Homo sapiens: one gene and its partners. The gene in region 4 interacts genetically with the main gene of each other region. Each region holds a gene or a part of one and is shown on either strand. Other genes may lie near its edges.

Region 1 (4,089 bases), on a different chromosome or scaffold from region 4:
TACAGAATGCTGACTGTGTTAGCAAAGGATGCCTATTGAAAATCTATAAAAATGGCCAGGCACAGTGGCTCACACCTGTAATCCCAGCACCTTGGGAGGCCAGGGCAGGCGGATCACGAGGTCAGGGGTTCGAGACCAGCCTAATCAACATGGTGAAACCCTGTCTCTACTAAAAATACAAAAATTAGCTGGGCCTGGTGGCGCACACCTTTAATCCCAGCTACGCAGTAGGCTGAGGCAGGAGAATCACTTGAACTCGGGAGACAGAGGTTGCAGTGAGCCAAGATCACGCCATTGCACTCCAGCCTGGGCAACACAGTGAGACTCCGTCTCAAAAAAAAAAAAAAAAAAACTATAAAAATAAGACTCTTTCTTAAAAGATACAAATAATTTTACCCTATGTTTGTCTACTTCGGCAATTCAGATTTTCAGGTTTATTCTACAGCAGGGTGTAGGTGTAGAAGAAACAGCCTCTCTAAGTGTTGCCAGTCTAGTTGAGAAAACAGTACAGACAGGAAGATTTATAAACACCTGCAGAATTATTTAGCAACAAATTCTAGTGCATACAGTACAGTTATCCTCTGGGAAGTCTCTGAATTAAGAAAGTCAGGTGGGGCCAGGCACTGTGGCTCATGCCTGTAATCTCAGCACTTTGGGAGGCCAAGGCCAGAGGATGGCTTGAAGTCAGGAATTTGAGACCACCTGGCCTGTCTGTGTAACAAAGATGTTTAAATTAGCCAGGCATGGTGGTGTGTGCTTATAGTCCCAGCTACTTGGGAGGCTGAGGCAGGAGGATCACTGACCCCAGGAGTTTGAGGCTGCAGTGAGCCATGGACATGCTACTGTGCTCCAGACTGGAGTGACAGAGCGAGACCCTGTCTCCGTTTTTTGTTTTTTTTTTCCCGAGACTGAGTGTGCAATGGTGCAATCTTGGCTCACCGCAACCTCTGCCTACCGCATTCAAGCAATTCTGCTGCCCCAGCCTCCCGAACAGCTGGGATTACAGGCATGTGCCAACACGCCCGGCTAATTTTGTATTTTTAGTAGAGACGGGGTTTCTCCATGTTGGTCAGGCTGGTCTCAAACTCCCGACCTCAGGTGATCCGCCCGGCTCAGCTTCCCAAAGTGCTGGGATTATAGTCATGAGCTACGGCTCACGGCCCACCCTGTCTCTTTAAAAAAAAAAAAAAAAAAAAAAAAAAGGAAGGAAGACAAAGTCAGGTGGGGTCTTCGGGGAAGGCTGATTGAAGGTGAGTTTTGAGCTGATTTTTTTAAAGGGGGAGGGAGTCCTAACTTTTTTTTTTTTAAACAATAATTGTACAGCAGGCAGTTTAGTTAAAACCACAACGGCAGCACTTTGGGAGGCCAGGGCAGGCAGATCACTTGAGGTCAGGAGTTTGAGACCAGCCTGGCCAACATGGTGAAACTCCATCTCTACTGAAAATACAAAAATTAGCCAGGCGTGGTGGCGGGCACCTGTAATTCCAGCTGCTCGGGAAACCGAGGCAGGAGAATCGCTTGAACCCAGGAGGCGAAGGTTGCAGTGAGCCGAGATCACGCCATTGCACCGCAGCCTGGGCGACGAGTGAAACTCCGTCTGAAAAAAAATACCACAGCAGATGCCAAAACTGAGTCACGCTGCCTTTGGCTTCTCCAGGGCCCCGATTTCCTCATTTCAGTTGGATGGACCAGTTGACTGTAATACTGATAAAAGGCATGTTCTGTCACTGGGGTGTTGGCACAGCTGGGGTTCACCCTGTCCCAGAGCTCTGGCTAGGGTGCTGGGAGTGACTGGAGCTGAAAGGGAGGCTTAGGACTGTGACCCTCCCAGGATCACAGAGGCATTCAGAGAGTGGAAGGGGCCTCTGGGACACAGTATTAGGAAAGTATTAGGAAAGAAGCATTTCTCACCCTCTTCTCTGCCCCTCCCCAGAGCTGCTGCCCAAAGGGAGCAAGGAGGAACAGCGGGATTACGTCTTCTACCTGGCCGTGGGGAACTACCGGCTCAAGGTGAGGTGGGGACCCCGTTCCCTTCACCCTCCTCTGGGGCTGCAGGACCTTCTTACTGTGTCCTCCAGGGTGGAGCCCTGGACAGCGGGAAGGCTGAAGGGGTGCAGAGGTGCAGAGCGGTGTCAGATGAGGACTCCGAGGGAAGATCAGAGTGGCGAGGGGGTGGGGAGGAAGGTGACGTCAAGAGACTGGGTGCAGGCCCAAGCCTTGCGCTGTTATCTCCCGCAGAGTTGGGGTTGTTTGTGGACTCTACTCCGTGGGGTGGGGCTGGAGGGAGGGAGTGGGTGGAGGTCGAGGGAGGAGCCCCCAGGGCTGAAGAAGGGAAGGCCCTTCACGTGGGCAGGGGGAGTGGTGGATACTGAGGTGTAGCCGGCCCAGTGGCTCACGCCTGTAATCCCGGCTACTCAGGAGGCTGAGGCGGGAGGACTGCTTGAGCCTGGGAGTTTGAGGTTGCAGTGGGCTGTGATTGCGACGCTGCCGTCCAGCGTGGGCAACAGAGCAAGACCCCGTCTCTTATTAAAAAACAAACAAACAAAAAAACACTGCGGTGTGTATGACGCGTGCGCGTTTCCCCGAGCGCAGGAATACGAGAAGGCCTTAAAGTACGTCCGCGGGTTGCTGCAGACAGAGCCCCAGAACAACCAGGCCAAGGAACTGGAGCGGCTCATTGACAAGGCCATGAAGAAAGGTGACAGCCTCGGCCCCTTTGTTCAGCCCCGCTCTTCCCCACGCCTGGGCACTTTGGTCTCTCTGTAAATGAACCCCTCCAGGCAGCCCCTCAGCCCCACCCCTTCCAGTTCTTAGAGCCCCTTGCCCTGCGACTCCAGGTAGGGGTGTGCCTCTGTTGAGGGGCAGGGCTGGCGGAAGGGGACGGTCAGGGTTTCCGCAGGGGCCGGGCTCCTGACACTGTCCCTTTCCTTCCCCAGATGGACTCGTGGGCATGGCCATCGTGGGAGGCATGGCCCTGGGTGTGGCGGGACTGGCCGGACTCATCGGACTTGCTGTGTCCAAGTCCAAATCCTGAAGGAGACGCGGGAGCCCACGGAGAACGCTCCAGGAGGGCCTGTCCATCCTCGCTGTCCTTTCCCTGTTCTCCCCCTGCCCCCCGTCTCTATCCTCTGTGGCCTTCAGCTAATTTCTGCTCCCCTGAGATTCGTCCTTCAGCCCCATCATGTGCTTTGGGATGAGTGTAAATAAAACGGGGCTGTGGCTTGGGAACCCCCGTGTCTGCGTTGAGGGGAGGGGTGGGTTCTGAACGCTGGGCACAGGGGGCGGAGACGTCACTCCTGGTCCTCTCCTGCCCCTGCCCTCCAGGTTGGCACGGGGTTCTTTGTCCACCCCGCAGCCCAGAGCCCACACCCTTCCTTCCTCCCTTTCCTGAAGCCATGTCCTTGAGAGTGCCGGGCAGCTCGGAGACATGGGGCTTTTCCATGGTCCCAGAGTCCTGGGAGAAGGCAGTGACCTGAGCATGGGCGGGCAGAACTTCGGGGCCAGGCCGGGCTTCAGGCCTGCATTCTCCTCTGACCCACTCAGCTACTTCTGTGGAGTTTTCCACAGCAGGCCCCCTTGGCTTCCTCCTCCCCACCCTCCCCTCCCTTTGTCTTCCTGTGGCCTCCCCTTCCTCCTACCTCCTCCTCTGGGGGAGGGGGAGCCCAGTAGGGGAAGGAATCCTGCATCTGGCATGGAGTAGGCGGGGGTCCCGGGAGAGGTCAGAGCCCAGGGAGCCCCAGCTCTCGCCTGTGGGCTGGAAGGTCAGGACTCAGCCCCACCTAGCCAGCTTCGCCCCCTCGTGCCAGGCTCGGCATGGGCCTGTTTTGCTTCACCGCATACCTCTCGTTCCACAGCCCAGGCCAGCACAGGAGTAGGGAGGAGACACCTGAGGGGAGGCCGGAGAAGCCCAGCAGGGCCGTGGGGCCAGGGAGGTGCGCAGCCAGCGCTGATGGCCCCCAGGGACAGAGCCCTAGGGAACCGGAGCAGGAGATGAGAGTGTCTGCTCTGGGACAGGTGCTCTGCACTGGCTCGGGATGGGGACCAGAGGCTGCTAATCCATCATCATTAACGAATAGAGTGGGTGACAGT
Region 2 (4,479 bases), on a different chromosome or scaffold from region 4:
TTCTCTTGGCAGTGGCCAGGGGGCAGGAGCCACACGTGCCCCTGGGGGAGCCCACATGGCACTTAGGGCTGGCAGCACCGCCCCTCTCCACGCAGACTCCGCCTCAGGTGCCCACTATCTGCTGGGCTGCAGGTACTGGTGTGTGAACATGTTGAGCTCACTGTCCAACCAACCGGCTTTATTCCTGCAAAGAAATGGTTCTTTTGTAACCATGATAGCTGATGATAGGCAGTATTAGGACTACCCGCCAGGCACCATCCTAAGGACGCTTGACACACACCCTTACATCATCCTCCAACAATCGTGTTTATCCCTGTCTCACAGATGGGGAAAAGGAGGCCCAGAGGGGTTAAATAACTTCCCAAGGCCACACGGCTAATAAGCCAGGGAGCTACAAGTTAGGCTTTTCTGATTCTCAAGCCCTGTGTTTCCTTCACCCAGGACCATGTGCAAGTCCCTGAGCTGTCGGGAACTCAGTTTCCCTGCTTGCCAAGCAAGGGGTTGAGGTGCTGACAGGAGACCCTTTCCAGGTTCAGCTGTGTCACTGTGGCTGACAAGCAGCAGTTCCCCCCATTCCCCCTTTCTGAGAGTCCCCAGAGGGCAAGCAGTGTGTCCCTAGGAAGCAGCTGTCCCCAGGTGGGGGTGCGGGGGGGGCACATCCGCAGTCGAGGGCAGGGAAAGCCCAGTGATCCGGTGAGGGTTGGAGCTGACACCCTCTGATCCATCTCCCCTCTGGCTCTGCCACCCTGCAGACTCTGACGTCAGGGGCGAGGGCAGGAAGTGCAGGGTCCCCGTGTGCTGATGCTATCATGGGCTAGGCAGGCCGAGGACTTCTGCAGGGTCCCCGTGTGCTGATGTTATCATGAGCTGGGCAGGCCGAGGACTTTTGCAGGGCACTTTTACATTCAGTCATGCAGCTGTGTCATGAAATCTTACTCCCATTTTACAGATGAAAATAATGAGACACAGGAGAGTTAAGAGCTTGGGCCAAACATGAGTGGCTGGAGAGAACCCAGGACTCCAGACTCCTCAGACTGATGTTCTTTCCAGCAAATTATTAATGAAAGCTCCACAGAGACCCCATGGAGATCTGAGTTCCAATCCCAGCTCTGCCAGTCCCCAGCCAAGTAACCAGCTTCTCTGTGGGTAAATGGGGGGCTATGCCCTCTTCATGGGTCCAAAGAGTGGCAGGTAAGGAGAATCAGAGTGCGGGGGCTGCTGGAGCCAAGTACACCTGGGCTCCCCTCCTAGCCTGGCCATTTTTTGAGATGCCAGACAAGTTCCCCAACATTTCTATGTAGAAAATGGAGAAATAGGGAAGACTGAGTGAAATAGCACATGTTAAGCGCTGTAGGCCCTGCGGTTCAGCACAGGGCGCTGTGAACTGCAGTCTCGCAGTACTGTGATGCCATCATGCCTTCAACTGCAAGTGCCTTGAAGGCAGCGACGCTGTGTCTTGTTGAGCCTCCAGCACCATCTGGCATCCATGAGGTACGTGGTACACATCCATTTTTTTTTTCTTTTTGAGACAGAGTTTTGCTCTTGTCGCCCAGGCTGGAGTGCAATGGCATAATCTCGGCTCACTGCAACCTCCGCCTTCTGGGTTCAAGCCATTCTCCTGCCTCAGCCTGTCGAGTGGCTGGGATTACAAGCACACACCACCACGACCAGCTAATCTTTGTATTTTTAGTAGAGACGGGGTTTCACCATGTTGGTCAGGCTAGTCTCAAACTCCTGACCTCAGGTGATCTACCTGCCTCAGCCTCCCAAAGTGCTGGGATTATAGGCGTCAGCCACCGTGCCCAGCCCATGGTACACATCTAACACGAATGAGCTAAATCCCCACCAGAAAAATTTGTGTCCACACCCAAGACGCAAGCCCAGCAGCTGAGCCCCAGTGTGCCTGGGCTGCACCCTGGAGCCCTAACCTTTGGCCACACGGGCCAGCCTCACCTGAGCAGCTTTGCTTTGCTCTGAAGTGAGTCAAGAACCTCAATTTTCTTGTTCATGGCGGCAATTTCCTGCTCCAGGTTCTCCCGGGTGACGTCAACTTGCTGACACAGATGAGCAAAGGTCCCAGACAGTTCCCTGGGGAGGAGAGAGAAGGGACCCAGTTGGGGTGTGTGGAGCAAGATGCCACTGGTGGCTTAGCCCACCCACAGTAGGGAGCAGCTGGGCCTGTCTATATCCCTGCCAGCAGCTCTGCCCTGAGCCAGGCCTGGTTTGGCAGAATCTCCTACACCCTGCTGAGACTGAATAATCATAACAACCAAACACACTCAGCATCACCACGGCCTGAGAAGCAACAGCACAGAGCTGTGCACCCTGGTTTGGGCACAAGAGATCCTGACTCTGCTGCTCATCAGCCGAGTAGCAGAGGACACGTCACTATTTTTCAAATCTCAGTTTCTTGATTTTGAAAAAGGAGATGGCCCTCTCCCTCTCCCGCTCCCTCTCCCTCTCCCCACGGTCTCCCTCTCCCTCTCTTTCCACGGTCTCCCTCTGATGCCGAGCCGAAGCTGGACTGTACTGCCGCCATCTCTGCTCACTGCAACCTCCCTGCCTGATTCTCCTGCCTCAACCTGCCCAGTGCCTGCGACTGCAGGCGCGCGCCGCCACGCCTGACTGGTTTTCGTATTTTTTTGGTGGAGATGGGGTTTCGCTGTGTTGGCCGCGCTGGTCTCCAGCTCCTAACCGGCAGTGATCTGCCAGCCTCGGCCTCCCGAGGTGCCGGGATTGCAGATGGAGTCTCGTTCACTCAGTGCTCAATGTTGCCCAGGCAGTGGCATGATCTCAGCTCGCTACAACCTCCACCTCCCAGCCGCCTGCCTTGGCCTCCCAAAGTGCCGAGATTGCAGCCTCTGCCCGGCCGCCACCCCGTCTGAGAAGTGAGGAGCGTCTCTGCCTGGCCGCCCATCGTCTGGGATGTGAGGAGCCCCTCTGCCCGGCTGCCCACTCTGGGAAGTGAGGAGCACCTCTTCCCGGCCGCCATCCCATCTAGGAAGTGGGGAGCGCCTCTGCCCCACCACCCCGTCTGGGATGTGAGGAGCGCCTCTGCCCAGCCACAACCCCGTCTAGGAGGTGAGGAGCGTCTCTGCCCGGCAGCCGCCCCGTCTGAGAAGTGAGGAGCCCCTCCGCCAGGCAGCCGCCCCCGTCTGGGAAGTAAGCGTCTCCGCCTAGCAGCCGCCCCGTCCGGGAGGTGGGGGGTCAGTCCCCGCCCGGCCAGCCGCCCCGTCCGGGAGGGAGGTGGGGGGGGTCAGCCCCCGCCCGGCCAGCCACCCCGTCCGGGAGGGAGGTGGGGGCGCCTCCGCCCGGCCGCCGCCCCATCCGGGAGGTGGGGGGCGCCTCTGCCCAACCACCCCTTCTGGGAAGTGAGGAGCCCCTCTGCCCGGCCACCACCCCGTCTGGGAGGTGTACCCAACAGCTCATTGAGAACGGGCCATGGTGACGATGGCGGTTTTGTCGAATAGAAAAGGGGGAAATGTGGGGAAAAGATAGAGAAATCAGATTGTTGCTGTGTCTGTGTAGAAAGAAGTAGACATAGGAGACTCCATTTTGTTCTGTACTAAGAAAAATTCTTCTGCCTTGGGATGCTGTTGATCTATGACCTTACCCCCAACCTGGTGCTCTCTGAAACATGTGCTGTGTCCACTCAGGGTTAAATGGATTAAGGGCGGTGCAAGGTGTGCTTTGTTAAACAGATGCTTGAAGGCAGCATGCTTGTCAAGAGTCATCACCACTCCCTAATCTCAAGTACCCAGGGACACAAACACTGCGGAAGGCCCCAGGGTCCTCTGCCTAGGAAAACCAGAGACCTTTGTTCACTTGTTTATCTGCTGACCTTCCCTCCACTATTGTCCTATGACCCTGCCAAAACACCCAAGAATGATCAATTAAAAAAAAAAGAAAGAAAGAAAAAGGAGATGGCTATAAGACAACATCTACCTCCAAGAGTCAGAGAAATAATTAGGTGCAAAATGTCTAGAGCAAAGGGTCTGCCACACACAATAAAAAAAAGGAAGCGAGGATATTCATCCCCACCACCCCAGATTAGGCAATAGATTCCCACCTGACCTAAGATGTGCACGAAGATCAGGCTGGGTTCAAAAACTTCAAAACTACATCCACAGCCCAAGCTCTTCAAGGCAACCTCTAAAACTCCTACTAGGAATATCTCTTGCCTTCCCATTTCTTCCTCACCAAGGGGCCCAGAGGCCTACCCCGTCCCAGCCCAAGACGCAAAGTGTCCCTGGGAGACCCCTCTCCCCATGACTGGCCTCAAAGCTGGCCCTGCACACCTGAAGGCCCAGGGTCTACGATGCTTAGGACCCAGTGGCTTCCAGGCCACGTGGGAAGAGAGATGGGGAAGGGAGATGGGGCTGACCCTGCCTAAAGGAAGTCCCCTGCTGGGGTCCGACAGGGCCACTCACTGCTGGACTTGGTGGCTGCAGTTGGAGCCAGTGTAGCTGATGACAAGCT
Region 3 (4,479 bases), on a different chromosome or scaffold from region 4:
CAAGCAAGCCTCCCACCTTGTTCTCCCAAAGTGCTGAGTTTACAGGCGTGAGCCATCATGCCTAGCCTGTTCTTTTTAAAAAAATCCACACTGCTCTCCACTGTGACGCCGCCCTGCCCATGCCCCTGACTACACTTCTCCCCTCTCCTCCCGCTCCCCTTCCCCAGGTGGACCTCCTGCGCTCTGCTCACCTGCACCCGCTACTCCTTCTGGCGGGAACTCTTCCTCCCTTTTCACCTGGCTGCTGCCTCCTTTCCTTCAGATGCTCCCAGCCTCCAGGTGCTTCCTCTGGGCTCACACAGCCCCCTGTGTTCCCTCACTCCTGCCTTGGTCACGCCGCCCGTTTCCCCACCGCGACTGACACTGCCCCACGCTTCGAAGCGCACAGGCCGCGTGCCTCTGGCTTCTGCTTCCTCCCTCGCTGGACAGATCACTCCGCCTGCGCCTCCCACTTCCCTCCACAAACACTCTGGGCCGTCAGTGTCGGCAGATGGTTCCGTCACCTCCAGGGACTGAGATCGTTTCGAGTCCCCCCCAACCCCGCGCCCCTAGGCAGAGCGTGGTCTCCGAGGCTCCACTGTGCCCCCAACATTTCCTCCCGGCCTTGGAGCCCTGGAGCCCGGGACCGGGCCCGCGAGCCACGCACCTACATACATGACGGTGCCCCGGCGAGGGGATTGTCCCGCCGCCCGCACCTCACAGCGGCTGCCCACGGGGATGGAGCTGGCCTGGGCCTTCTCCTCGGCCAGGCGCTGGGCGGCCTCGGCCTCCTGCTGAGCCCGCTCCTCCTCGTTGTACCGGCCGAGCTTGCTGCGCTTCAGGAAAGAGCGGACCGTGTCTGTGGGCAGAGGGGGCTGGGGTCAGTTGGGGTGTCGGCCGGGCCTAACAGGATGACGCTCCACCCACGAGGGGCCCACGTTCACGGAGGAACTCTCTCTTCCAGGTGACAAAGGGCTGTCACCCAAGCCCCAGGTCTCCCACCACAGCCTTAGCCTCTCCCAGGACTCCTAGGCCCCCCAACTCCACAATCGTAAATGGAAGGGGTGCCGCCTGCACCCCTCACTACAGGACCCATGGTCTCTCACCCCTTCAGCGCACATCTGCCTTCATCATCCGCCTTCCTCCTCCGCCCTCCTCCGGCCCTGAGGCCCCCGGTCTCCCCCAACACTCGATCCGTCCCAGGCGCCCTCACTGACCGCCACCCTGTCCACTCGCATTCCACCTGTCCTGCCCTCCACACCCCGTCCGACCGCCCCATGCCCCCATCTGACCCTGACAACACCCAGCCCCCACACCTACCCCTCAACTCCCTCCACTTTCCCAGCCCTCCCCCGACCACGTCTGACTGCCCATACCCCTGACACCTCCCGGCCCTCATTCCCACCCCAGGCCTCCGTCTGTCCCCACTCCCAGCCTCACCCCTATATCCTCCCAAGCTCTCGGCCCCCCGTCTACACCACTGGCCTCCCTGCAGGGGCCCTGTCTAACCTGCCCGCCCTCATACCTGCACATACTCCCTCTGGCCCCCACGCACCCCTCGACGCCCACCTGCCCGTACCTTGCCTCTGGTCGTAGGCTTCTTGTGAGATCGTGTACTTCTCCACCCGGGACACGTCCTCATACTCACCAAGGCGGGCGCCACTGTGGTCAATGACCTGTGTGAGGGGAGGGGCTCCGTGGGGATCAGGGTCTGGCCAGGGAGGCCTGGGTGCTGGGTGCAGGGACTTCAGTGTCTCCATCTGGGAAAAACGCATCTCCCTCCCTCGCCTGTACTGCAGCCTTCTCTTCTCTCCTGAGCCCAGCGGAAGGGAGAAGTAGCTACGTACACTGGCCACCTCCCCTTCCTCACCCCCATCCAAGCTCCCAGAGGCTGCCTCTGTCCCCAGAAGTTCCCCGCTTGCTGGCATCAACATCGCCAAGGGCCCCAAAGTCACAGAGTCCAACCGGCAGAGCTCAGGCCTTGCCCACAGCCCTGTGCACAGCGCATCTCCTCGATGGGCCTCTGGGACTCTCCTAAGCTGGCCCCAACCTCAGGCCCCAGAGCATCTCTTCCTGTTCTGCCCCCACTATTCATTCATTCATTGGTTTCCGAGCTCCCAGGGGCCCAGCTGGGCCTCATGCTGGGGACTCAGTGTAAACACAGACGCACTCTGCCCTCAGGCTGTGCTCATTGTGCAGGGAGAAGGCCAACCACAAACAAAGGAACAGGTACCTATGAAACACTGGAGGATGGCTATGGAGAAAAATATGACAGGGAAGAGGCTTAAGGAGCATGGGAGGGTAGGCTTCCCAAAAGAGGGGATGTTTCAGCCAAGGCTGGAAAGATGAGCAAGAACGGCAGGTGCAGACGGCCAGAGGTAGAAATGTCCTTCACGCTCTAGAGTGGGTGGTGCGGGTGGGGTGGAGCGAGCCAGAGGGAGAGTGGAAGACACAAGGGACTGCTGGAGACTTTGGGTTTTTTTTTTTTTTTTGACGGAGTCTCGCTCTGTCACCCAGGCTGGAGTGTGGTGGTGTGATCTCAGCTCACGGAAACCTCTGCCTCACTGCAAATTCAAGTGATTCTCCTGCCTCAGCCTCCCGGGCAGCTGAAACTATAGGCACACACCACCACACCCGGCTAATTTTTGTATTTTTAAGTAGAGACGACATTTTGCCATGCTGGTCAGGCTGGTCTAGAACTCCTGACCTCAAGTGATCTTCCCACCTCAGCCTCCCAATGTACTGGGTGGGATTACAGGCACGATCCACCGCACCTGGCCTAGACTTTGGTTTTTATCTGGAGCGAAGTGCCACCAGGGCAGGGCTCTGAGCTAGGAGGGCCCTGGCCTGACTCAGGTGGTCCCAGGCTCCCTCTGGCTGAGATGGGGAGCGGGGAGGCCAGGGAGGAAGCTGCCGGGATGGCGAGGTTGGGGGAAGGATGGAGGCTGGACCAGGGTCAGGGAAGTTTTTGTAGGTGGAGCCGAGAGGATTTGATGAGAGTGGATGTGGGGGTGAGGGAGAGAGCGGGCCCAAGGAACACCCTGAGGTGTCTGGCCTAAGCCACTGGGCTAACATGGCAAAATAGGAATGGCCTTTACCTCCGGATGAAGCGTCACTGAGAATTTCTGTTGAGAATTTTCACAAATTTGAAGTTCTGTTATTTTAAACAATGAATATGGGTGATATTTATAAAGAGAAAAAGAATTTTAGAAAATGTAAAAATTCCCCAGTGGCTCCACTCTGGAACACCTTCCTTGAGTGGCCTGGGAGGTCTGTGTGTACCTGAACCGCCTGTTATGAAACCTGCTCAAAGATGCCACTGCCTATGAGGTGCCTATGAACACCCGCACCCCTTAGCTTCAGCTGCCCAGGGTGGCCCAAAGGCTCAGTCCTGTGCACCCAGCAGAGGCCTGACCCACAGCTCCAGACCTCGTCCCCTCATCAGGACTCTCACAGCAGCCCCTTCCTGGTCTCCCTACTCTTCCTGTCCTCCACCACCTGTTCCCCACACACAGCCAGAGGGGGCCTGTGAACACCTGAGCCAGGTCAGGGTCCTCCCCAGCTTCCACAGTGTTTGGCCACAGAAGTGGCCTGTCTTAATCCCCACCGCGCTCCCTCCCACCTTGGAGTGTTTGCTGGGTTGTGCCCCACTCCTAGGGCACCCCTTCCCCATCTTCAGTTAACCTTTTTTTTTTTTTTTTTTTTAAAGATAGGATCTCACTCTATCATCCAAACTGGAGTGCAGTGGTGTGATCTCAGCTCACTGCAACTTCCAGCTCCTGGGTTCAAGTGATCCTCCTGCCTCAGCCTCCTGAGTAGCTAGGATTACAGGCATCTGCCACCACGCCCAGCTAATTTCTGTATTTTTAGGAGAGACGGGGTTTCACCGTCTCGAACTCCTGACCTTAAGTGATCTGTCCACCTCAGCCTCCCAAGGCACTGGGATTACAGGCGTGAACCACCATGCCCGACCAATTCTTTTTATTCTTCTCGTCTCTGCTCCAGCAGCACCACCTCCAGGATGTCCTCCCAGACGTCACTGATGCATCAGGTACCCCAGGATAGGGTCTCCCAGCTTCATGATCTCCTACACAACCCTTGTCTCCCCTGACCCTTCACATTCAGTCCTCTGGCCATTTAGCCAACATCTGCCTCATACACTAGAACTTCTCAGATGCAGTCATAATGAAACCCCTGGCACAACACAGATGGGGAATGAACAGTTAATCAACGAGAGAAAAAAGAAGCAGTTCTCTCTAGAGTCATGTAGACTGGGGCCAAAATGCTACTGACAGTTCATCCTTAAGAAAGTAGATTCTGGGCCGGGTGCGGTGGCTCATGCCTGTAATCCCAGCACTTTGGGAGGCCGAGGTGGGCGGATTACCTGAGGTCAGGAGTTCGAGACCAGTCTGACTAACATGGTGAAACCCCGTCTCTACTAAAAATACAAAAATTACCCTGGTGTAGTGGCGGGCATCTGTAATCCCACCTACTCGGGAG
Region 4 (4,479 bases):
TGTCCCAATTCTTGAACTCCATTGAAGAACTATAAGATTCTTTGAAATTCAAAGCAATACTAATCTTACCCTGGGCTCCCCACAGAGTCAGAGGGAAATATGATGAAAAGGCACTGGGATGCAGCACATCACAGAAAGAACAGGCCCCTTTCAGTCATCCATTCCCTCAACACATACTAAGGGCCCAGCATGAGGCTTGCTACTTGAAGCTGCTGCACCTATATTAAAAGTCATATTCATCACCATAGTGGATGCTCAGATGTTTGCTGAATGAATAGTTCTCAACTGTGGCAGCTGAGATCTGGCTGCCGCCTAGCCAATTTCAAGCCTTATTCAAGTCTCCACCACTAGTTATCAGAATGGCCCTGTGTCTACTATGCTTGCTGGATTTTTTTTTTTCTTTTTAAGATGGGAGTCTCGCTCTGTTGCCTAGGCTGGAGTGCAGTGGCACGATCTCTGCTCACTGCAAGCTCTGCCTCCCGGGTTCACGCCATTCTCCTGCCTCAGCCTCCCGAGTAGCTGGGACTACAGGCGCCCGCCACCATGCCCGGCTAATTTTTTCTATTTTTTAGTAGAGATGGGGTTTCACTGAGTTAGCCAGGATGGTCTCAATCTCCTGACCTCGTGATCCGCCCGCCTTGGCCTCCCAAAGTGCTGGGATTACAGGCGTGAGCCACCGCGCCCGGCCGCTTGCTGGATTTTTTAACCAAGTATTTTTGAATTAGGCGCAATAGATATTAAGGTATTTGAAGCTGCAGAATGTGACATGCTCCTGTACCAGTTCTTATTGCCAGTTACCAGAACCTCATTCAGACAGGACCATATTGATATACCTGCCATTCCTGAAGACGACAGAAATATTTACAGTGTCTGCAAACTGGCACATAAACATTGGAACCAACCAACCACTACCATTCTAACTTCTGAATCACCTTGAAAGCTAGTAGCTGCATTCTGGTATATCAAAGGCTGCTGGATGATCCTCGTCTGCGGAGTGGTGCTGAATGTTGGCGTGATCATTACCGTCTGTTGTTGCAGCTGAGTTTGAGGTTGAGGCTGGGGCTGGGGGCGGGGCTGAAGAATAGGAGTTGCCCTGGGTGTGGTGGGAACTGAGGTGGGAGAAACCTTGACTTGCAGAGTTGGAGCCTGTGGGGAGGCCGCCGAGGGAGAGAAGGAAGGTAATGTGACCTGGGTGAATGACCGTTGCACTGAAGGGTCCACAGCTCCGCTGCTGCTGCCCCTGCCATTGCTGCTGCTGCTGCTGCTGCCACTGCTGCCGCTGCTGCTACCACTACCACCACTGCCAGGAAAGGAGCTACACAGCTGTTCTGAAAACAAGTCAGGGAACTCTCCCACTTGATTACTGACAAATTGCAGCATCTCTGTGAACAAAAGAAAAGGAGTAATTTTATTGCTATCCAAAAAGTGAACTTTCAAACTTGCTTAAGAAACTAAGGCATGAAAACTCAATGACTTTCCTAAGACCATGGCAGAAATGGGTCAGGAAACCCTTACCTCTTTCTTGTGGGGATCATCTGGGCCAAGATGGCTGCCCAAGGTCCCAGGACAACAGGACAGGACTTTATCTGTTTGATGTTCTTTTCCCTCCTCACACTCACCTCCAGGCCCTTTCTCTCATTTTCTTTCTTTTTTCTTTTTGAGACGGAGTCTTCCTCTATCGCCCACGCTGGATGGAGTGCAGTGGCGCGAACTTGTCTTACTTCAACCTCTGCCTCCTGGGTTCAAGCGATTCTCCCGCCTCAGCCTCCTGAGTAGCTGGGACTATAGGTGCACGGCACCATGCCCGGCTAATTTTTGTAATTTTAGTAGAGACAGGGTTTCACCATATTGATAGGTGGGTCTCGAACTCCTGACCTTAGGTGATCCACCCACCTCAGCCTCCCAAAGTGCTGGGATTACAGGTGTGAGCCACCGCACCCAGCCTCTCTCTTTTTCCTGATTGTTTTGATCATAAAAGGAACTACCTTTGTACTAGATGGGTGCTGTTCTGTCGAAGGTACCAAGGGTCCTTTTTTACAGCTGGAAACACTGAGGCAGCGAGTAGGGAGTCACTGTCCTAAGGCTGTGAGTATAGCGGTTTTGGCTTGTGAGGCCACCTCTAATCCTAGCACTGCAGACCCAAACTTGCTCTAACCTCTTTCCTCCTCACCACAGGGAGGCTCTAGGCCTCCTCTCCAAGCTGAGTAAAACCCTGGGCACTGTTGGTATTCTTGGAAACACTCAGGGACAACCAAGTTGATGGCCCCTAAGTCATGGAGCTTCAGGGATGCAAAGAATGGAAAAACCATATATGAAGTCCAGGAGAGGAAAGTAACTTGGCCAAGGTCACACAGCTTGTCAGGGTACAGCTAGGATTAGAACCAGTTCTCTGCCTCCCAGCTTTGTGTTCTTCTACCACAACACAGTGCAGGTATGTTGCCAGGCCAGGACACAGCAAGCCTGCCCCACCCTGAACTCCGTGCTTCCCAGGGCCCATGCTAGCCCTTGTCTGGTTGTGCCCCTTTTCTCTGGGCAAGGAGTCTTGGGTCCAAAGGGATTTGTCCACCTGGAGACCTCGCTTCCCTTTCTAGATCATGTTCCAAGTAGCTGGGACCCTTAAATTCCCAGCCCAAAGGGTCTCAAGCCTACTTCCAGGGCCTCTTCCCTGGTCAATCTTCCCAAAGGCTTTCCAAAACCCAACTTAACCCACAACTACCCCATCATCTCTCACGACTCCCTTCTTTTTCATATGACTGGTCCCTATAGAAGTCAGGAGCCTCAGCTTTGTCCCAGATAGTTTCAGACCTACAATTCTCTACATTGTCCATATTCTTTTCTCTTTTCTCTCTCCAATACGTTCCCAAGAAGCTACTGCTTGTTCTTGAACTATGGCCCCTCCTTTCCAAACCTTCAAGGCCATGTGATGCTCTGATTTAGACACCAAAACAACAAAAACCACCACACCACCACTATAAAAAAATAAAAGGAACCATCTCCATTCCCCCAAACCTCCACCAAGATGTCCTTCTCAGGTCTCTGATGCTGTGTGTGTGTGTGTGTGTGTGTTTTTTGGGGGATGTGGGGGCCTGGAGCCTGGGGTATATTTGTATATCTGACAAACAGAAAGCTGCTGAGACCGGTTGTGGTGGCTCATGCCTGTAATCCCAGTGCATTGTGAGGCCAAGGTGGGAGGGTCACTTGAGGTCAGGAGTTTGAGAACAGCCTGGGCAACACAGCGAGACTCTGTCTCTCTTTTTTTTGAGATAGGGTATTGCTCTGTCACCCAGGTTGGAGTGCAGTGTTGCAATTTCAGCTCACTGCAGCCTCCACCTCCCAGGCTCAAGCGATCCTTCCACATCAGCCTCCTGAGTAGCTGGGACCACAGGTGTGCGCCAACCATGCCCGGCTAATTTTTGTATTTTCTGTAGAGACGAGATTTCACCATGTTGCCCAGGCTGGTCTCAAACTCCTGAAAAGCAACCTCTCGGTTTGGCCTCCCAAAGTGCTGGGACTACAGGCATGAGCCAGGGCACCTAGCCAGATCCCTTCTCTGAACACAAAACAAACAAACAAAAAAACACAAAGATTTTTTGGGCCGGGCGCGGTGACTCACGCCTATAATCCCAGCACTTTGGGAGGCCAAGGCGTGCGGATCACAAGGTCAGGAGATCGAGACCATCCTGGCTAACACGGTGAAACCCCGTCTCTACTAAAAATACAAAAAATTAGCTGGGCGTGGTGGTGGGCGCCTGTAGTCCAAGCTACTCGGGAGGCTGAGTCAGGAGAATGGAGTGAACCCGGGAGGCAGAGCTTGCAGTGAGCAGAGATCGTGCCACTGCACTCCAGCCTGGGCAACAGAGCGAGACTCAGTCTCAAAAAAAAAAAAAAATATATATATATATACATATATATATATATTTTGATATTTTGTGTGTGTGTGTGTGTGTGTGTATATATATATATATATATATATATATATATATATATATGCTTGCAGAAGGATAGGAAAAATAAATCATAATTAAATGTAAATAGGCCAGGGGTGGTGGCTTATGCTTGTAATCCCAGCACTTTGGGAGGCCAAGGCAGGTGGATCACCTGAAGTCAGGAGTTCGAGACCAGCCTGACAAACATGGTGAAAACCCCTGTCTACTACAAAAATTAGCCAGGCATGGTGGTGGGTGCCTGTAATCCCAGCTACTCGGGAGGCTGAGGCAGGAGAATCGCTTGAACCCAGGAGGCAGAGGTTGCAGTAAGCCGAGATGACTGCGTCACTGTACTCCAGCCTAGGGAACAGAGCAAGACTCCGTCCCAAAAAATAAATAAATAAATAGATAGATAAATAAATAAATGTAAATAAATAAAGCTGCTGGGGCTTTCTAGTGTAGTCTCCATATGGGATAACTGGAGCTTTGCATTTCAATCTGGGCACCTTAAGTATTCAGTCAGTTAAACCTGCTGGGAAAAACAGCATCTCAC
Region 5 (4,479 bases), on a different chromosome or scaffold from region 4:
AGCAGGCTGAATCCATTAGATTTCAAAACCCAAAAATAATCATTTGTGCCTTCATTCTCTGGTGCTCTGTTCTCTGAGCCAGCCAGGGGGGCCCCACCCTGTGTCCCACAGGGGCAGTGGCCTTGCCCTCTGAAACCAAGCAGACAGACAGTAGCTCCATCATCTGGACCTGTGATGTCTGGGCTTGTGGTGGTAGCCACAGCCCCACCAGCCTCTGAGTTGCCCTTGGTGGCCTTGCTGGTCTCTGAGCTACCCTTAAGAGTCATTCTGTCCTTTTCTTGAAGGTGAACTTGCAGCCAACTAGCTCTGTTGGTCTGTCTTCTGCTAGTAGGATCCCAGAAGTCCAACAACCTTCCTTCTTTTCATCCCATTTCTGTTCCTTTCAGTCAAAGCTGGAAGTGATTCTGCTGAGATGATTGATTGGATTCATGAGTCACATATCTAATCTCTTCACCAAGAGGTTTTCTAGCCATACTCTGGAGCACACTATCTGGATAGGCTAAGAATTTTCCAAAATCATCAAGTCCTGGTTTATTTTTTTTTCCTTTTTTTTGAGACAAGGTCTTACTTTGTCACCCAGGCTGGAGTGCAGTGGCATGATCTCGGCTCACTGCAGCCTTGACCTCCTGGGCTCAGCCCCCCAAGTAGCTGGGACTACAGCCACGTGCCACCATGTTTGGCTAATTATTTGTATTTTTTGTAGAGATGGGGTTTTGCCATGTTGTCCAGGCTGGTCTTGAACTCCTGAGCGTAGTTTTTTGGTGGACACAGGTGGATTGCTTGAGCGATCTGCCTGCCCTGACCTTCCAAAGTACTAGGATTACAGGTGTCAGCTACCACACCTGGCTTCATGTCTTGCTTTCTTTTTTGCTTTTCAGTTCCTTGCTCCATTTCTCTCTTTCCTCTCATATTTTACTGTAAGTAACAAGGAGAAACCAGGATGTCTCTTCCGCACTTTGCTTGGAAATCTCCTCAGCTAAATATCCGAGTTCATCCCTTACAAATTCTACTTTTCTCCCAACAGTAGACCGTAACTTAGCCAAGTTCTCTGTCACTTTATAACAAGTAACATCTTTTCTCAACTCTGTCTGAGACATCACCAGAGGAAACATTCATATTTCTGGCAAAATCCATCCATGACAACATATGTATTCTGTAAATAATAGAAGTTTTCTTTACAGCTCTCATCTCTTCTGAGTCTTCATCACAATTGCCTTTCATGTCCCTATTTCTACCAATGATCTCTTCAAGGCAATCTGGGCTTTTTCTGTCAAGCACTTCAAAACTCTTTCAGTCTCTACTCATTACCCAATTCCAAAGCCACTTTCATATTTTCAGGTGTTTGTTGTAGCAGCAACCCACTTTCTGGTGCTATAATCTGTATTAGTTTCCTAGGGCAGCTGTAACAAATTGCCACAAATTGTGTGGCCTAAAAAAATAGAAATTATTCTCTCACAATTCGGTAAGCTGGAAGTCCAAAATTCAGGTGTTGGCAGGTTTGGTTCCTTCTGGAGATTCTGAAGCAGAATCTGTTCTTTGCCTCTCTCCTAGTTTCTGATGGCTACTGGCAGTCCTTGACACTCCTTGACTTCTACACATATCACTCTAATCTTTGCCTCCATCTTTACGTGGTGTTCTCTCCTGTGTTTTCTGTGTCCAAATATCCATTGTCCTATAAAGACATCAGTCCATTGGTCTTAGGGTCTAACCCTAATCCGCTATGACCTCATTTTAACTTGATTCCATCTGCAAAGACACTTTTTCCAAATAAGAGACTGGGGCTCAATATATCTTTCTGGAGGCTATAATTCTATCTGCTACAGATAGTCAATACTTTCTCCTGAAAGATAAAAATTATAAAACTATACAAACAAAACAAAACAAAAATGACAATAATGGCCAACTATTGTATATCAATCTAACCCAGGGTCCCTATATTTTAACTGAACTCAAATTTTTTATTATGAGATTTTTATCAGACTGTCTTTATGACAAAATCTTATTTAAATCCACATGCAAAAAAATGATGCTGGGCTCTTATATCATTTGTAAAAATTAACTCAAAATGAAACAAAGACCTGAATATATGAGCTAAAACTATAAAACTCTTATTAGAAAACATAGGGGAAAAGCTTTATGACATTGCAGTTAACAATAATTTCTTGGATATGACACCACAAGTATAGGCATCAAAGGAAAAAAAAAATTGGACTTCATTTAAATTGAAAACTTCTGTACATCAAAAACTGTTGAAAAGGCAACCCACACAATGGGAGAAAATATTTGCAAATCACGTATACACTAAGGTATTAATCTCCAGAATATGTAAAGAACTTCTACAACAACAATTTAAAACAATCTGATTAAAAAATGAACAAAGGATTTGAATAAGCATGTCTCCAAAGAAGATACACAAATCGTCAATAAACAAATGAAAAGATGCTCAACATCACTAACCATTAAGGAAATGCAAATCAGAACCACGAGATACCGCTCTATTCCCATTATGACGGCTCTTATAAAAAATAAAAAAATTACAAGTGTTGGCAAGGATATGGAGCAACTGGAACCCTCGTGCATTGCTGGTAGAAATGTAAAATGGTGTAGCACCTACGGAAAAACCACATGGCTATTCCTCAAAAAATTAAACACAGAATTATCATATGATCCAGTAATTCCACTTCTGGGTATATACCCAAAAGAACTGAAAGCAAGCACCCGAACAGATATATTTGTATACTCATGTTCATAGCAGCATTATTCACAACAGCCAAAAGGTAGAAACAAATCAAATGTCCATTGACAGAGGAATGGCTAAACAAAAATGTGGTACATACATACAATGAAATGTTATTCAGCCTTAAAAAAGGATGAAATTCTGACACATGCTACACAATATGGATGAACCTTGAGGTAAAGTAAACCTTAAGGCTAAGTGAAATCAGTCACAAAAGGACAAACATTGTGTGATTCCACTATATGAGGTATCTAGAGTAATCGAATTCATAGTGACAGAAAGCAGAATGACAAATAATGGTGATAGTTACACAACATTGTGAATGTACTAATGCCACAGAACTGTCTACTTAAAAATAGTTAAAATGGGAAATTTGATGTATGTATCTTTTACTACAAAAAAAAGTAATGGGCTTCTATGCAAATTATGAGAATGACAGAAATTTACCACTGAACTTGATTTTATCAATGTTTACGACCTCAGGTCAATAAAGTATCTTTGAGGCCGGGTGCGGTGGCTCATGCCTGTAATCCCAGCACTTTGGGAGGCTGAGGCAGGTGGATCACTCAAGGTCAGGAGTTCGAGAGCAGCCTGGCCAACACGGTGAAACCCCATCTCTACTAAAACTACAAAAAATTGGCCAGGTGTGGTGGCACACTCCTATAATCCCAGCTACTCAGGAGGCTGAGACAGAAGAATCGCTTGAACCCAGGAGGTGGGTGCAGTAAGCAAAGATCGTGCCATTGCACTCCAGCCTGGGCAACAGAGTCAGACTTCATCTCAAAAAAAATAAATAAATAAATAAATAAAGTATCTTTGAATGTTTTCTGTTTCACTAAATAACATCTTTACAAAACAAATAAATATATTACCTCTTGAATTTCTTTTTCTAATAGCTCCACTCTTTCTCGAAGATGTCTCCTCTCAGTGTCAATAGAAAGAAGTTCCAGTCGAACTGAGCTGCTTTCTCCCTCAGCTTGATGGGCTTTGACCTCCCAGTCTTCAGCACGGTTATGAAGCATCTGAAATCTATCTAACAAATCTTGATTTTCTTTTTCCTGGTTTAATCACAATAAAATTGTTTCTAAATTAGTAATTGTCACTTCCTGGAACACCTATGTCATAAACACATACACATACACAGCATTCTGTTCTAATTTAGGAAGCATTAGATATCTGTGCAGGTACCACACTAAAATCTATGGGAAAAATAGAAAAAGGCAGTAGACAAGATCTCTACTTTAAAATGTTTAATATCTAATTGTAGAGGCACATGAAAAAGTTAAAAAAAAAAAAAACCTCAGTCTTAAATCCAACCTAAATAATATTTTTCACCTTGGCAGCCATTAAGCTCTCCCATCGTGACACCTCTGTTATGTATTTATGAACTCTGCTCTTCATTTCTTCTTTTTCTTGCACTGCTGCTTCCAATTCCAATGAGATTTCCTACAAATCAGAAAATTAAAGACAATCTAAAATGAACACAACACCAAATAAATTTTATTTATATTCAAATAATTCCTTTGGAATTGGAGAATAAGATAGAGTAGGGCAAAAGGAAAACTGTTCCTAAGTGTTATTTTCACATATTTTTCCTGGCTGATCTTGCCTTTTAAAATATTTCAGACAGAGTCTCATTCTGTCGCCCAGACTGAAGTGCAATGGCGTGATCACAGCTCACTGCAGCCTCGACCTTCTGGGCTCAAGCAATCCTTCCACTTCAGCCCTCCGAGTAGCTGAGA
Region 6 (3,872 bases), about 11 Mb from region 4:
GCTTATGGGGGCAGGTTCTCCCGACCTCCACAGTCCTCTGGCTCCTGACCTTCTAGGCCAGAGCAGGCACCAAGCAGGGCTGCTTCCCAGGCCAAGCCCCGCATTGCAGCTCCCCCTACCTTCCCCTCCATCCTCTGCTCTTCCAGGGCTGCCAGCCGGGCCTCTTCCTCCTTTTCTGAACCAGCCTCTGCATCTTCCTCCTCCTCCTCATTTTCTCCCTCTTCATCACCATCACCTTCGTTGTTGTCGTCCTCTTCCTCCTCCTCTTCTGACTCATTCAGGTTTCCTAGAGAAAGCCAATGTCCTCTGAATGCCCTGGGAATCTACTGTCTCTCTGGCAGGGTGACAACAGGCCCAGGCCCCATCCTCTCTGACCCTGCCGTCTTTAGCCATGGGCAGTTCAGGGATGTCCCAATTGTGGCCCTCTCTTGCACCTCCCCACAGCCCAGCTGCCATCAGAGGAAATTCCAAGACCCCCAGTCCTGAGCTCTGTCGCCTCCAATGTAAACTCTGATGACAATGCAGCATGTTCTTCTGCTCAGTCATCCTGAACGTCAAATAACACCTGACCCCAGGAGGTAGATGTCCCTTCTCCTAAGCCTTATTCTACAGGTGACTTCAAAGGGCTTTCTGCTCCTACTGCCTGTTCCCTGGAGCTTTCCACCTTGGCAGCTAAGGGAAACAGCCAGCGTGGGCCCAGGGGTCAAGGCCAGCCCAGTCCCATCCCGCTCACCTGGGTCCTCTCCCCGCTGCAGAGCCAGCAGCTTCAGCTTCTCAGGTGGAACGTAATCTCCTTCCTTCTCGGTCACAAAGGGTGAAAGGTGTGGGGGCAGCTGCACCCCAGAGAAGTACTCTGCCACGGGGAGAAGGAGCCTGGCGTTCACTGAGTCAAACACCCACTGGGGCTGCACGTAGCACCTGGCGCAGAGTGGCAGGCAAAAACGAGTCACAGAGGGCAACTCAGGGTCCTGCTGCATCGCAGGGCCTTTGAGACAGGATACCCAGAAATCCGGACGAGGACCCTTGAGGGCCTACCTGCCAATGACTGAGGTCTGCTGCCCAGGCCGGTCGACAATCTGATGGGTGATGCGGGAGTCTGTGACGTCATAGGTGGCCCCAATGCACAAAGATTTGTCCCAGGACACTTCCCCACCAAAACTCCTACAGGGACAGGGAGAGCCCACACGGGTACACAGACATGAGCTGCCTGTCCTGAGACTCAGCTCCCTGGGACCTGCTGGCCACCCAGCCCATAAACTCACCCTCTTAGGACACAATTACCCCCTCCTCACCCCAGGATCCTTCAATCCTGGCTCAGCAGAGATCTGCCCACTGCCCATCCTTCTGTGCTAAGCTAGTAATAAAATGACGGCAGTTCCGCCCTCTGCTGAGCACTTCCTATGTGCTCAGTGCGGTGCCGAGCACTTTCCACACACTGTTTCATAAGAAGTGGAAACTGACACCATCCCAATGTTACCGATGGGCACCAGGGCAGGACCCAGACCAGAGCATGGCCGAACCAATGCTGTCAGCGGGCCCTTGAGCCTCCCTACCTGATGATGAAGGCCAGGGCCTCACGGGGCACCTCTCGGTTCAGGAAGAACTTCAGGCCCTCAAAAAGCTTCTTGTGCTTCTCCTGCGCCTCCAGCTCCTTCCTGCGGTCTTCCTCCTGCGCTGACATCTCCTGTTGAGAAAGGGGCCAGGCCTCGCACCACCAGGGCTGCCCACCCCCACTGGAGGGCCAGGGCTGGAGATAACGTCCACTCCAGCTTCCTTCTAGATCCTGGATCCTGCCTTCAAAGGAAACTCCAAGGCCCCACTCCTGAGCTCTGTTGCCTCCTATGTAAACTCTGATGACAATTCAGCCCATTCTTCTGCTCAGTTGCTTTGACCATCAAATAACACCTAATTATAGGATGCAAATGTCCCTAAGCTGGGAAACCCCCCACACGACCCCTCCCAGCCCTCCTGCCAGAAGGCAGTGCAGTGCTCACCCCATCGGTGGGAAACTCATCCACCTCGGCCTCCTCCTCTGTGGCAGGCACCACCACGCGGGCCAGGCTGGCACTGAGGGCTGCCAGTTTCTACAGGAGAGAAGGGGGCTGCTTGCAGTGGGGGACCTCATGCGGGCATGTGGCCAGGGTGGGGAGGGGCAGCAGTGACAGTCCTGGGCATCAGCAGGTGTGGGTTCCAAGGGCAGGCTGAGACCACCCACCTAGCCATAACCACCCCCACTCTGAACCAGACCCCCAGAGGTGTTGGGGACAGAGACCACTCCCTTGGGAGATGCCGGATGATGCTCCTGGAGCCTCTCACCTCCATACAACTCTCGGAGTCCAACGCGTAGGTGCCCTCACCGGCCTTTGCCTCTGCTTGGGCCTGACCCTCGAGCTAGTAGGCAAAGGGAAGGTCAGGAGGCAGAGGACAGCCACAGCCCCTCGCCTCTGTGTGGACAGAGAAGGGCTGTGGCCCCTGCACGGCGAGCAGAAGGCACTGGGCTGGGGTCCTACCTTCGGGGGATAGTGGAGGTTGAGCAACTGGTAAAGGCGGAAGTTGACAAAGCCCAGCAGCGTGGTGTAGAACTCGGTGAAGGTGGCCATGACCCTGTAGTCCACGTCTGTCGGGTGCTGGGGAACACAAGAGATGCATGAGCAGTGTGGGTGCAGGGATGGGGGCAAAGGAGGGACAGACAACCCACAGAGTGGAGGGTGTCTGACCTACCCAAAGACCCCAAGCTCCTCAAGAAGGCTCTGCCCTTAAGGCGCTGCCCTAGGGAAGGGGTGGCATGGATCTTCCCACCAGGGGCGTTCCGGCCACAAGTGTTCCCAGCCACAAGTGAGGCTCTGGATAGGGGTCCCAAGGGTTAGACGCATCCTGGAAGTCAGTGCCAGACCCCCATAAAAGAGTGAGAAAAGGGACCCTGGTCCCTGCTGCTCCGAAGACTGGCTGGCCCTCCCCTCCCTGCTCCGGCTCTCCCACTTCCTTCAGGTCTAGCTCAGACTCGGACAGACCACTTTCCGACCTGGCCAGAGCTCCTGCCTTCTACATCACCTAGTCTACAATCTTTGCTGCATGTCTGCTGCTGGGCTAGCGTGTGAGCACCAGAGGGTGGTGCTCCCAGCGCTGTCTCTAGCCCAGAGGGGCTGGCAAAACCTTGGCTGACTAAGGTGCCTTGGGAAGGCCAGGCCCAGCGGGGGCGGGGGAAGCATGGGGCTCAGGCCGCCCACTGAGTCCCACCTCTGAACCTTGGGATGGACACTCAGAATTGAGTGACTCCCTCCTTGGGCCCAAGCCAGGTCCAGAGGCATGACCCGAGGGGCCAGGGTAGGCTGGCAGCTGGCCTGGCTCAGCCCCCAGGGAGCTCTTGGGAAATGGCCAGCAGACAAAACTACTTTTTGCTCAGGGAAAAGGCACAGAGCTGTCATCCCAGCAGCAGGGGACACAGAAGGCTCATCTTTGCCCTGGAGCAGTTAATAGGGCAAAACAGGGCAAAGAACTGAGGCCCAGACAGAATCACAACTCTTGAGCAGTTCTGCCCCCTAAAACCATGGAGGCCGAGCCAGCCCATTTGGCCCCCAGGACGCGGCAGGATGTTCCGAGCAACGTGAAAATCAGTAGTGATCACCATGGGTGCCGGGTGTGCCCATGACTCTTAGCTGTTCCGCTATTCTGCTGCCAGACAGTGACCTGTGCTGTGAGAGCACATAGGGCCAAGAGAAGCCCTGCCTGTTCCCTCACTCACACCGCCATCCTTCCATGAGAATCTGTGAGGGCCCCTGACAGGCACATCTGGGGACCAACCCCATTTCCCACAGCCCAGCACTGAGCAGGGAGACCCCGCCCCTACAACCAGCCTGAGTTCCACAGCTATG
Region 7 (4,479 bases), on a different chromosome or scaffold from region 4:
AAGAATCTCTTAAACCCGGGAGGCAGAGGTTGCAGTGAGCCGAGATTGCGCCATTGCACTCCAGGGTGGGCAACAGGGCGAGACTCCGTCTCAAAAAAAAAAAAAAGTTACACTAAAATTCAGATTGGCTTGTCTGACAAATTATCAGTGAGTCTAGAGATAACGTTATTTAGAGTGGCACCTTTTCTATATACTTTCCTAAAATGGTCTCCACAGTGATAATAATTACGATGGGTGACAAATGAGTACTGCAATGAATGTGAGGCATTTAGCTTTTATTATTAGCTTTGCAACCTTTAAATTAGTTCTTTGAGCTTAATCTGATACTTTTATAACCAACTTCAACAAATAAAAACTGTGTTTATTATCTTAAGCTTTATAGAGGCTTAAAAATTTAAACTCCTTTTTAAGACGGATGTTTTTGGTAATGGCTTTACTTAGTAAGTGCTATATGCAAATAAAAGATTTAGGAAGAGGATGGGCACAGTGGTTCACACCTGTAATCTCAACACTTTGGGATGCTGAGGCAGGAGGATAACGAGCCCAGGAATTCAAGACCAACCTGGGCCACAAAGTGAGACCCTGTCTCTACAAAAAATTAAAACATTAGGCAGGCATGGTGGTACATGCCTTGCAGTTCCAGCTACTCAGGACCCAGAGGCAGGAGGATCATTTGAGCCCAGGAGGCTGCAGCAGTGGGCTATGGTTACACACTCCAGCCTGGTGACAGTAAGACTCTGTCTCCAAAAAAAAGGATAAGAACAAAAAAAGTATTGGGATACACAAATCTAAATTTGAGATAATCCTCATTTGTGACAAATATTCCACCTTATTAGTGACTATTTTTCTTTTTTGGACAACTGTTTATTGGCTTTAACATAAAATTTGTCCAAATGGTGCAAAAATACACATCTATATAAATTAAATCTACTTAAATATAAAGTACTTGAGAAGAATATGGGTCTTTATAACAGAAAATCTATTTTTAAAATTATTTTTTTCCTTAGGTTACTCACAATTTAAAGAATGCACCAAAACATGAAGTATAACATTCACAAATGTAATAAAATTTATATACCAAAATAACAATACAGAATTCAGAAAGTTTACAGAGGAAGCCATATGGTATTCAGATGGATTTTGTTGGAATTTTAACTGTTGTAAATTTTTAGACGTTTGAGGGAAAAAAATCACTTTTTAAATATAACCGTCAATATCTTATGTGTGCCCCCATTTCCCTGTCACCAATTAGCGGCATCATGGTGTGCATTAGCTTCAACTTTGTATCTATACACAATAGTTACATATGACCTCATGCACTGCATGGATACTGCAGTCACTCTCCAATTATCTTTTTGTAGTCTGTGTGAAGCAGTGATCACTTTCAGCTCAGATAGCAATAAACTGTCTAAGGATAACATAAAATTGTCAATAACTCTAACCTAGGTAACCTAGTTCCAGTCCCAAAATGGAACAAACAAGGATGCATCTGATTTTACACTCTGCTTCTATACACCAATATCCAATTTATATTGAGGGTCAAAAAGTAAATTAATGATCTTCAAAACTGTTATTCTTGATTAAAAATTGTCCAGACATAAAGGTGAAAAAGTTCAAATAGCAAAACTTTATATAATCAGAAAATATTCATGTAACTTTTAAATTGGACAATGCTTTCAAATAAGAAGCAAATTTACATATAACTTTTGAAGTATTCCCTGCATAATTTGGTATCCACTCTGCTAAATGGGTCTTTAAACCAAGTCCAACTGGAGAAATCACCCAATTACCTGGTCTAAGATAACACTGATAAAAAAAGAAGCTTTCTCCAACAGCATATAAAAGGTATTTTACTTTCCTAAATTCACTAGCATTGTCCAATTGAGAACTAAAAATGCAGAAAAGTCATTTTTTGTTCAGACTACAAATAACCTGGAAGAGGGTAGTAAAGACTTAACTAATCCAACTATAGCCATACATTTTTGATCTGGGCTCAAATAATCATTCAAAGTTTTTTTTGCGGCAGGGGGGAAATCACAATAAACTGAGTGTTTTGTTAGGAAAAACTATAAGCAGTGTTGTTATTTCAGAAAACAAAAAGAAATACCTAATAGCTTTGTTGTTTTAATAATAAAAGAACATGTCATTTTTGCTGTTAACTGTCATCCTCCACTTACCAGAAACAAAAATTATGTAGTTCATAAAAATGCACAGGTACAGGCTTCAGTTACCTTTGATATGTAAATTAATGCACTTTATTGATATAGCTGCAAATTTAGAAAGATTATAAGCATTATAATTTAAACATACATAATGCTATTTTGATATTTTTAAAGATCCACTTTTTTGAAAAATCAATGTGACTAATAATTTAAGTCTTGACTAACAACATATCAAACCCATATAGTTTTGGCAATGCATTAGATAAGAGTTTCTGCTAGATGAAAATAAGCTATCTCGTGAAATTTGGATCTGAACGCCATAGTAACACACACATATATCTCTCACTGTAAATTATTTACACTCCATCTGAATCACCTTTAACAAGCCTTAAGCATGACAGAAATATGTGCACTAGCTGGGCACAATGGCTCATGCCTGTAATCCCAGCACTCTAGGAGGCCAACGCAGGTGAAGAACTTGAACTCAGGAGTTCAAGACCAGCCTGAGCAACATGGTGAAACACCATCATTACCAAAAATATAAAAAAAGAGCCAGGCGTGGTGGCACATGCCTGTGGTCCCAGCTACTCAGGAGGCTCAGGTGGGAGGATCACTTGAGCCTGGGAGGCGGAAGTTGCAGTGAGCCAAGATCATGCCACTGCATTTCAACTTGGGTGACACAGTGAGACCCCATCTCAAAAAGAAAAGAAAAGAGAGAAAAGAAAAAAAAAGAAAGATTTGAATGAACAAGAATTACACTTAATGATGCAGTTATGAGCATATTCAATTCTTGAGTTCCAAGACTTTCAAAGTGATTTTGAATAAGCAAACATCTCCATCAAAGTTAAATATTTAATTTCTAGTTCATCTGCAGATAAATATTTCCTGAAAAAGAATCATTACATTCTAAAAATAAGATCGTTGGAGCTGTGAAACAAGAAAAAAATGTCTTGGCTTGAAAACAAAACAAAACAAAACAAAAAACTTGTATTATGACTTTGAATCTTTCTTTAATCTTGATTTTCCAAATTTTAATTTACTTGGAAGTAAGAGAAAAGAAATTGAAGGAGATTATTTTAACAAGTATTTTAACATGTAAATACAGGAAAAAGTTTATCTCAATTTCAGAAGCTGAAGAATGAGCAATTATTTTAAGAAACTGTTCACATAGATCTCAGCATCCTCTTGAGAATCTGATTTCACAAAAACTAGTTCTACAATGGCAGAAAGTTTCAATGTTTTCTAGGATTTTAATGCTTTAGGCGAATATATACCTTTACCATACCTTTTGGAGGCTGCAGAAGCCTGGAATTCTCAAACAAATGTTTCTTTTTGATAGGTAAGATGACTGTGTCTTTCAGATCCGTAATGACATCATCTAAACCTGCTATATCACTCCAAGTAACCTGGCAAAAGTTAAGGTCAACATGAATTTTACTACAAATGTACACTCACTAAAGTAAAAAGAACGCTCCCAAAATTACAAATGTTAATCTGATGATTATACATAAATAAGTTAAAATCATATATTAACATAAGTAAAGACTTTTCCAAGCAGTAATGAAATAAACTGCTATGAAACTGGAAAAAGGAATTTAATAGTCAACTATCTACTATTAAAAATCTGTAAGTCAGGTACTCAAAAATCTGCAAGGGTCTAATAAGCTAAATTCATTCCACTTGTAAGGAGAAAATACTCTGCTGCAAGAATACTGAGAACCAGCTGAGACATAATTTAGCACTGGCTGATGGGAAAGAGCTCATCAGGAATGTACCTATTTTATACAGGATGTTGTCAAGCATCACAGAAATTAATTTTAGAAATAAGGTCTTACAAAACATAGCTTCTGAATTTTATCCATCAAAAGTAAACCTATGGACCAGGCGTGGTCGCTCACGCCTGTAATCCAGCACTTTGGGAGGCCAAGGTGAGCGGATCACTTGAGGTCAGGAGTTCGGGACCAGCCTGGCCAACATGGTTGAAACCCCGTCTCTACTAAAATTACAAAAAAAAAAAAAAAAAAAAAAAAATTAACCAGGTGTAGTGGTGTGTGCCTGTAGTCCCAGCTACTTGGGAGGCTGAGGCAGGAGAATTGCCAGAACCTGGGAGGCGGAGGTTACAGTGAGCCAAGATCATGCCACTGCACTCCATCCTAGGTGACAGAGTGAGACTCTGTCTCAAAAAAAAAAAAAAAAAATTACAACTATGTTAAAACTTAAGGAAGTATCTTTATAAATAAAAACAGGGCATACGTATTTTCAAAATAGACAAGAAAAACCTGATTCAACTTGTCCTGAAAGGACTGGCACTTGTCCT

Evidence for each region.
Region 1: changes in SREBF2 (region 4) and FIS1 together harm fitness less than expected from each alone (positive genetic interaction), as found in Homo sapiens cells (one large-scale study listed by BioGRID).
Region 2: changes in SREBF2 (region 4) and MFN2 together harm fitness more than expected from each alone (negative genetic interaction), as found in Homo sapiens cells (one large-scale study listed by BioGRID).
Region 3: changes in SREBF2 (region 4) and TBCB together harm fitness more than expected from each alone (negative genetic interaction), as found in Homo sapiens cells (one large-scale study listed by BioGRID).
Region 5: changes in SREBF2 (region 4) and CEP135 together harm fitness less than expected from each alone (positive genetic interaction), as found in Homo sapiens cells (one large-scale study listed by BioGRID).
Region 6: changes in SREBF2 (region 4) and PES1 together harm fitness less than expected from each alone (positive genetic interaction), as found in Homo sapiens cells (one large-scale study listed by BioGRID).
Region 7: changes in SREBF2 (region 4) and ATAD1 together harm fitness less than expected from each alone (positive genetic interaction), as found in Homo sapiens cells (one large-scale study listed by BioGRID).

What each region holds. Positions count from the first base shown.
Region 1 is NC_000007.14:101,238,751-101,242,839, reverse strand, and holds the end of FIS1 (mitochondrial fission 1 protein), read left to right. Parts: intron 1-1,933; coding exon 1,934-2,010; intron 2,011-2,592; coding exon 2,593-2,698; intron 2,699-2,936; coding exon 2,937-3,034; 3' UTR 3,035-3,368; downstream 3,369-4,089. UniProt on the Homo sapiens protein: Involved in the fragmentation of the mitochondrial network and its perinuclear clustering. Plays a minor role in the recruitment and association of the fission mediator dynamin-related protein 1 (DNM1L) to the mitochondrial surface and mitochondrial fission.
Region 2 is NC_000001.11:12,007,201-12,011,679, reverse strand, and holds part of MFN2 (mitofusin-2), read right to left. Parts: coding exon 4,431-4,479; intron 2,089-4,430; coding exon 1,954-2,088; intron 185-1,953; coding exon 115-184; 3' UTR 1-114. UniProt on the Homo sapiens protein: Mitochondrial outer membrane GTPase that mediates mitochondrial clustering and fusion. Mitochondria are highly dynamic organelles, and their morphology is determined by the equilibrium between mitochondrial fusion and fission events.
Region 3 is NC_000019.10:36,117,886-36,122,364, reverse strand, and holds part of TBCB (tubulin-folding cofactor B), read right to left. Parts: intron 1,656-4,479; coding exon 1,559-1,655; intron 839-1,558; coding exon 647-838; exon of another isoform or gene 192-646; intron 1-191.
Region 4 is NC_000022.11:41,863,734-41,868,212, reverse strand, and holds part of SREBF2 (sterol regulatory element-binding protein 2), read right to left. Parts: intron 1,383-4,479; coding exon 933-1,382; intron 1-932.
Region 5 is NC_000004.12:56,011,116-56,015,594, reverse strand, and holds part of CEP135 (centrosomal protein of 135 kDa), read right to left. Parts: intron 4,184-4,479; coding exon 4,073-4,183; intron 3,796-4,072; coding exon 3,610-3,795; intron 1-3,609. UniProt on the Homo sapiens protein: Centrosomal microtubule-binding protein involved in centriole biogenesis. Acts as a scaffolding protein during early centriole biogenesis.
Region 6 is NC_000022.11:30,579,018-30,582,889, forward strand, and holds part of PES1 (pescadillo homolog), read right to left. Parts: intron 2,628-3,872; coding exon 2,511-2,627; intron 2,392-2,510; coding exon 2,317-2,391; intron 2,085-2,316; coding exon 1,995-2,084; intron 1,685-1,994; coding exon 1,554-1,684; intron 1,162-1,553; coding exon 1,036-1,161; intron 919-1,035; coding exon 734-918; intron 287-733; coding exon 120-286; intron 1-119. UniProt on the Homo sapiens protein: Component of the PeBoW complex, which is required for maturation of 28S and 5.8S ribosomal RNAs and formation of the 60S ribosome.
Region 7 is NC_000010.11:87,786,863-87,791,341, forward strand, and holds part of ATAD1 (outer mitochondrial transmembrane helix translocase), read right to left. Parts: intron 3,569-4,479; coding exon 3,448-3,568; intron 2,268-3,447; exon of another isoform or gene 2,203-2,267; coding exon of another isoform or gene 2,178-2,202; intron 1-2,177. UniProt on the Homo sapiens protein: Outer mitochondrial translocase required to remove mislocalized tail-anchored transmembrane proteins on mitochondria.